Regions from separate parts of the Homo sapiens genome. Here region 2 is reported to be linked to region 1. The links are microRNA targets in miRTarBase. Many come from high-throughput screens and were not tested one by one. Region 1 holds a microRNA gene; the other region holds the end of a gene's coding sequence.
The links. The annotated mature microRNA hsa-miR-554 reads GCUAGUCCUGACUCAGCCAGU and lies in region 1 at 2,124-2,144, shown strand. An mRNA with a match to its seed (bases 2 to 7 or 8) in the 3' UTR can be bound and repressed. Matches are read on the target gene's strand: a 7mer-m8 pairs with bases 2 to 8, a 7mer-A1 pairs with bases 2 to 7 and ends in A, and an 8mer does both.

Region 1 (3,539 bases):
TTCCAGCTGTTTTAGGTCTCTGCACCATTATGCTCAAGATTCCAGGGAGAGAGTACCATTGTCCCTTGGCCCCCAGTTGTCCAGAGCAGGACAGGGTTCCTTGACTGATAGGCCCCCCCCAGATTACAGTGATGGAAGGAGATTCTCCAAAGACCCAAGTGTTGTTATCAGTGGAGGGGAATGGAAGCTGCGTGGCAAAAGAACAGATGTCTATGACATTAGACTTTACCATGGATGATCTCTGATTTCATTTCCCTCCTTCCCTCTCTTCCTTCTTTCCATCCTTCTTTAAATCACTTTTTTTTTTTTTTTTGAGACAGGGTCTCACTCTGTTGCCCAGGCTGGAGTGCAGTGGTGTGATCATAGCTCACTGCAGCCTTGAACTCCTGGACTCAAGGGATCCTTTCACCTCAGCCTCCCAAGTAGCTGGGACCACAGGCATACTCAACATGTTTAGCTAATTTTTCATTTTTCGTAGATATGGGTTCTCACTATGTTGCCCAGGCTAGTCTTGAACTCCTGGTTTAAAGTAATCTTCCTGCCTCGGCCTCTCAAAGTGCTGGGATTACAGGTGTGCACCACTGCACCTGGCCTTAAATCACCTTTTTTTTGGGCGGTGGGAGGGGGAGGATGGAGTCTCACTCTGTCACCCAGGCTGGGGTGCGGTGGCACAATCTTGGCTCACTGCAACCTCCATCTCCCTGGTTCAAGCAATTCTCCTGCCTCAGCCTCCCGAGTAGCTGGGATTACAGGCATGGGCCACCATGCCCAGCTAATTTTTGTACTTTTACTAGAGATGGGGTTTCATCATGTTGGCCAGGCTGGTCTCAAACTCCTGACCTCAAATGATCTGCCCGCTTCGGCCTTCCAAAGTACTGGGATTACAGGCGTGAGCCACCGTGCCTGGCCTCTTAAATCACTTTTTATCAAAGGAGTTTCACTCTTGTTGCCCAGGCTGGAGTGCAACGACGTGATCTCGGACATTTAAAATCACATATGTGCATGATTTTAAAGTATCAAAGTATCAATAATATCAAAAGGCTTTTAAAAGAAAATAGCAGTCCCCTGCTCCAAGTTCTGCTCCATGGAAGTAACCACTTTCTACTCTTTGAGCTGTTTTGTGTTTACCTCCATGTTTCTAAATAATATGCTTACAGTGATTTTAATTGATTTATCAGTTTTAGACATCTATTGACTTCTGTTGTAGGAATTATAGGAAAATCTATACTCCCACCCCTGACATGCTTCCTTCCCATCCTCCCAGTGTAATTGTATTACAATTTTTGGTAATGTAATAAACTAGTTTCTGTTAATAGCATTGTGGTCAAGAGCATGGCTCTGGGCTGAGTGCAGTGGCTCACGTCTGTAATCCCAGCACTTTGGGAGGCTGAGGCAGGTGGATCACCTGAGATCAGGAGTTCGAGACCAGCCTGACCAACATGGCAAAACCCCATCTCTACTAAAAATACAAAATTAGCCAGGTGTGGTGGTGCGCACCTATAATCCCAGCTACTTGGGAGACTGAGGCAGGAGAATCATATGTACCCAGGAGGTGGCGGTTGCAGTGAGCCGAGATCACGCCATTGCACTCCAGCCTGGGCAACAAGAGTGAAACTCCGTCTCAAACAAACAAAAAAAAGAGCATGGCTCTGGGAATCTGACTAAGGTGGGCTCTAATCAGGCTTTGATGTCTGCTTTGCCCAAGCTCACTTAGGCAAATTACTTAATTTCTTCATTCTTAGTTTTCTCACTTGTAAAACTGGGATAATAATTGCACCCTTCTCATAAGGTAGTTGTGAGGATTAAATTAGATAATACACATAAAATATGAAGCACAGTGCCTGGCATGTGGTAAGTACTCAGAGGTTAGCTATTATTTTCTATTTCTACTGGCTTAGACTAGACTGTTTTAACCTCCTATAAGCAACCAGCCAAGGGATGGAGGAAGAGTCTGGGAACTCTCTGGTTTGGGCAAGGTTTGCTCCTCCTCATTATGCTGACTTTTGTTTATTCCTGTTTCTTTCTCGTTTCCTTGATGATCCAGGTCCCTCAACCAGTGGAGAGTCCCAGGGGTGAGAGGAAGGCCTACAGATAGACCCAGGGTGAAGACCTGAGTAACCTTTGCTAGTCCTGACTCAGCCAGTACTGGTCTTAGACTGGTGATGGGTCAGGGTTCATATTTTGGCATCTCTCTCTGGGCATCTTTCCTCTTCTTTTTTAGACCTCATGACCAAGGCAGCTGGTGTCCCCTGCTGCTCTGGTTTCTTTAAGTAATATATCAGTTTTATCTTTCTTTCGAATATTTGCATTTTTTTCTTTTTTTTTTTTTTCTACAGCATCTTTTTATTGTCTTTACCATTACTTTAATGCATTTTAAAATTTATCTACATTAATTGGGAACTATTTGCATTTTTTTCATCCTCTCTCTCTTTTTCTTTTTCTTTTTTTGGATTTGTCTTGGCCAGAGAGGTTCTCCAACACCCGGGTGGACTTGGAATTTTTTTATCAGCTGCAATCTGAAGACTTGTCTTTACTGTGGAATAGGTGACATTCCTTTAGGACCTCAGAAGCTCAAGTAGTTTAATGCCAAGTCTTTCCAGAGCCTCACTCTCTTTTATTTTTTAAATTAGAATTGTGATTTATTGAAGCCTTACCATGAGCTTCATATAATTTTTTATGAACAGCTTTATTGAGATATAATTCATATACCCCATTTAAAGTATGTAACTCAGTGGTTTTTAGTACATTCACAGAGTTGTGCAATCATCAATAAATCAATTTTAGAACATTTCCTTACCTTATAAAGAAATCCTGACCCATTAGCAGTCACTCCCCATTTCCCCCCAATCTCTCTCAGCCCTAGGCAGCCACCAGTCTACTTTTTTTCTCTATGGATTTACCTATTGTGGATATTTAATATAAATGTAATCATCGGTATGTGATCCTTTGTGACTGGCATCTTTTATTAGAATGATGTTTTCAAGGTTCATCCATGTTGTAATGTGAATCAGTACTTCATTCCTTTTTATGGCTGAATAATATTCCATTATTTAGATGTATTACAACTGTGTTCGTCATGGATAAATGTTGGTGGACATTTGGGTTCTTTCTACTTTTTGGCTATCATTTATAATGCTGCTACGAACTTTGGTGTACAAGTTTTTGTGTGGAAATATATTTTCATTTCTCTTGGAGAGGAATACCTAGGAGTGGGATTGCTGGGTCAGAATATTTGCATTTTAAAGGAGGATTCATCTGTAGCCATTGCTGCTTACTCCAGAGGACTGAATGTATTCTAAAATGTGGAAGTCCTGGTTCTGTGACATCTGAGTGTGGGGAAAAACTGCTGGGCAGAGGAGCCTTTCAAGTTTGGTGGCTGCCTGTTCCTTCTACTCATGAAACTTGTCCTAAACTCAGCCCATAAATTTCTCCTCACACCATCCCATCTCTCCCATTTATTGCCAGGTTCTTACTTTCAGGAGCACTGCATTTTTCTGATGTCACCAAGGCTGCCAGGAATTTGGGGAATGCTGGGCTTT
Region 2 (3,000 bases), not on the chromosome of region 1:
GCTAAAAACGTGGCTTGCTTTGAAGAATCAGCCAAAGAGGCCCCACCATCACTTGAACAGAATCAAGCTGAGAAAGCCCTGGCCAACTTCACTGCAACATCAAGCAAGTGCAGGCTCCAGCTGGGTGGTTTGGATTACCTGGATCCCGCATGTTTTACACACTCCTTTCACTGATAGCTTGACTAATGGAATGATTGGTTAAAATGTGATTTTTCTTCAGGTAACACTACAGAGTACGTGAAATGCTCAAGAATGTAGTCAGACTGACACTACTAAAGCTCCCAGCTCCTTTCATGCTCCATTTTTAACCACTTGCCTCTTTCTCCAGCAGCTGATTCCAGAACAAATCATTATGTTTCCTAACTGTGATTTGTAGATTTACTTTTTGCTGTTAGTTATAAAACTATGTGTTCAATGAAATAAAAGCACACTGCTTAGTATTCTTGAGGGACAATGCCAATAGGTATATCCTCTGGAAAAGGCTTTCATGATTTGGCATGGGACAGACGGAAATGAAATTGTCAAAATTGTTTACCATAGAAAGATGACAAAAGAAAATTTTCCACATAGGAAAATGCCATGAAAATTGCTTTTGAAAAACAACTGCATAACCTTTACACTCCTCGTCCATTTTATTAGGATTACCCAAATATAACCATTTAAAGAAAGAATGCATTCCAGAACAAATTGTTTACATAAGTTCCTATACCTTACTGACACATTGCTGATATGCAAGTAAGAAATAATGCCTCCAATTTTTTCTTAAAATAGTTTAGATATGTTAAGCATGGATTTTCCCCCTAAATTCTACTCTAAAGCTTCTATAAAATATAGTTTGGAAATAAAAATGTTCTTACACAAGGGGCAAATGAATTTCATGTGAATCCCTTTAGGATGTTTTCCTCCTTCATTTCAGCATGATAGATAATTTATTATACACCTTAGTCTTTCCTTAGTTAAAAAAAAATTCCCTAAAGACTAACTTGAAAAGAAAACCACAGCAGGATGCTAATGGAATTACTGCCTTACTGTACATACAAATTCTACTTTAATATAAACCCATAAGTTTAACTGTATTTTTGAAGACTATTTTTCTATGACTTAGGTAAAATAAAAGACTATTTTCTATTTTCCCAGTACAGCTGTTTATGTATTCAGTGGGTACAGTATTTTCTGCTGCAAGGTTATAATGTGTATTTACAGTACATAGTAGTATATAAAGTTCCCGTTTGTGGAGTAAAATGCCATACCAACCCAAAGCCCACTGTGAAATATGAAGTGAATGACAAAATTCAGTTTTCAACGCAATATAGTATAGTTTATCTGATTCTTTTGATCTCCAGGACACTTTAAACAACTGCTACCACCACCACCAACCTAGGGATTTAGGATTCTCCACAGACCAGAAATTATTTCTCCTTTGAGTTTCAGGCTCCTCTGGGACTCCTGTTCATCAATGGGTGAATCTTCCTAAAGCTACCATAAAAAGGGAGGGCGACGATTTCTAACAGCTGTTTAAAAGAGAGAGGTTTTGCTTTTGTGAGAAATCTTGGGCCACAAAAAAATTTTAAGCAAAGCCAGGAGTTAGTGTCTCTCTGAAGTAAATTCAATTGCAAAATCTTGGCAGAGGCAGAAATGGCTCATATCAGAAGTGTCCAAATAAAAGTTCTGGGAAACTAGGTATTTGCTTCCCAGAGCAATGGGAATAGCTCCAAAGGTCAGAGTAAGGTAATGAGAATCTCCCGGTCAATTCCAGTGCCAGGCTTCCTGAAAGAAGTCAAAGCTTGGATCCTCATTTTAAAGGGCGCATCCATGACTCATCTAGCAGCCCCTCTCTATTTTTCCCTTCACTTGATGGTAAATCCATTCTATATGTCCATTTACTAGCTGGACATAGAGAACTTGAGCTCACCTCTGGGAGTTAAATATTCCACCCCAACTATCCCATATTGATAGCAACTGGACTCAGAGGTCCCCCTCCTGTTTGAAAGTGAACACATTGCCAATGTTTTGAGAATGGCAAAAGCAATAGATACGAAGCTCCATTTTTCTAATATATAAACAATATCATGTGAGTAAGGGAAGCGTGTGGGAAAGTTGTCCAAGCTCATTCAGTCCCCTAAATCCTCGATACTTTAACTGTCTGAGAACCAACTGCATAGGCATCACCTGGGCAGTGTTTGAAAATTCCATTTGCAGAATCTTAAGCATCAGAATCTGCATTTTACTAAGATCCCCAAATGATTCAATTGCACACTGAAGTTTGAGAAGCATTGTTCTAGACAACCATTTCCACTAAAGGTTATTTTAGTTCATAGTAACAATCCTCTTTTGGAAAGGACAGATCAAGTCTGTTTGACTTGCAATGAACAACACTGCATGTAAGCAGGCAAAAAAAGAAACATATCAGTAGTTTAAGATTCACATTATGCTGAATCTTATATGAATTCACATAAAAGAATGACCTGCAAAACTACGCACAACTTCTGAAAGGCCAAGGAATATAATCTACCTTGAGAGACATTAACCAAAGACAGTCACCCTCAAAGCCAATGCAGACTAAATCTTTCCTAACATAGTCTATTCTCTAAGAATAGAGAAGATATGTATCAGTCACTCTTATAGTCTGAAAACCTAAACATAAAAGTAATCTGCTTTTGACATATAATTTTGTATAATACGTATGAAAAAATGTGACAGCTAAGGACTTGAATTAAATCCCTAAAAAACAATTAGCCACTCATTAGGCCAAGACTTTAATTCTATGATCAATTAGCACTGTTTATCTGAATTAAGCTTTTTTGTGGTCTAACAAAAAGTTTTTTTGTGGTCTATCAAGGAGACAGCTGTTCAAATGGAAGGATACATGTGGGGCAGGGGGGCGGTGAAGAGACCTAGATTCTGGTCCTAACTGCTTTGCCTTGGAGAGATTAATTCCCCCCTCTAAGCCTCAGTTTCCTCTGAAGATGTTGGACCAGATAACCTCTAAGGTCCTTTGAA

Region 2: miRTarBase lists PRLR as a target of hsa-miR-554. The part of its 3' UTR that is shown has no 7-base or 8-base seed match.

What each region holds. Positions count from the first base shown.
Region 1 is chr1:151,543,688-151,547,226 of GRCh38, forward strand. It overlaps MIR554 (microRNA 554), which reads left to right and starts at 2,109; the gene lies at 2,109-2,204. All of the region lies in intron 1 of TUFT1 (tuftelin 1), which reads left to right. RefSeq lists an enhancer at 3,241-3,539.
Region 2 is chr5:35,062,263-35,065,262 of GRCh38, reverse strand. It overlaps PRLR (prolactin receptor), which reads left to right. Exons shown (of 10, transcript NM_000949.7): 10 at 1-3,000. The coding sequence ends at 174. Among named protein-coding and RNA genes, the nearest start is that of AGXT2, 16 kb to the right of the region's middle.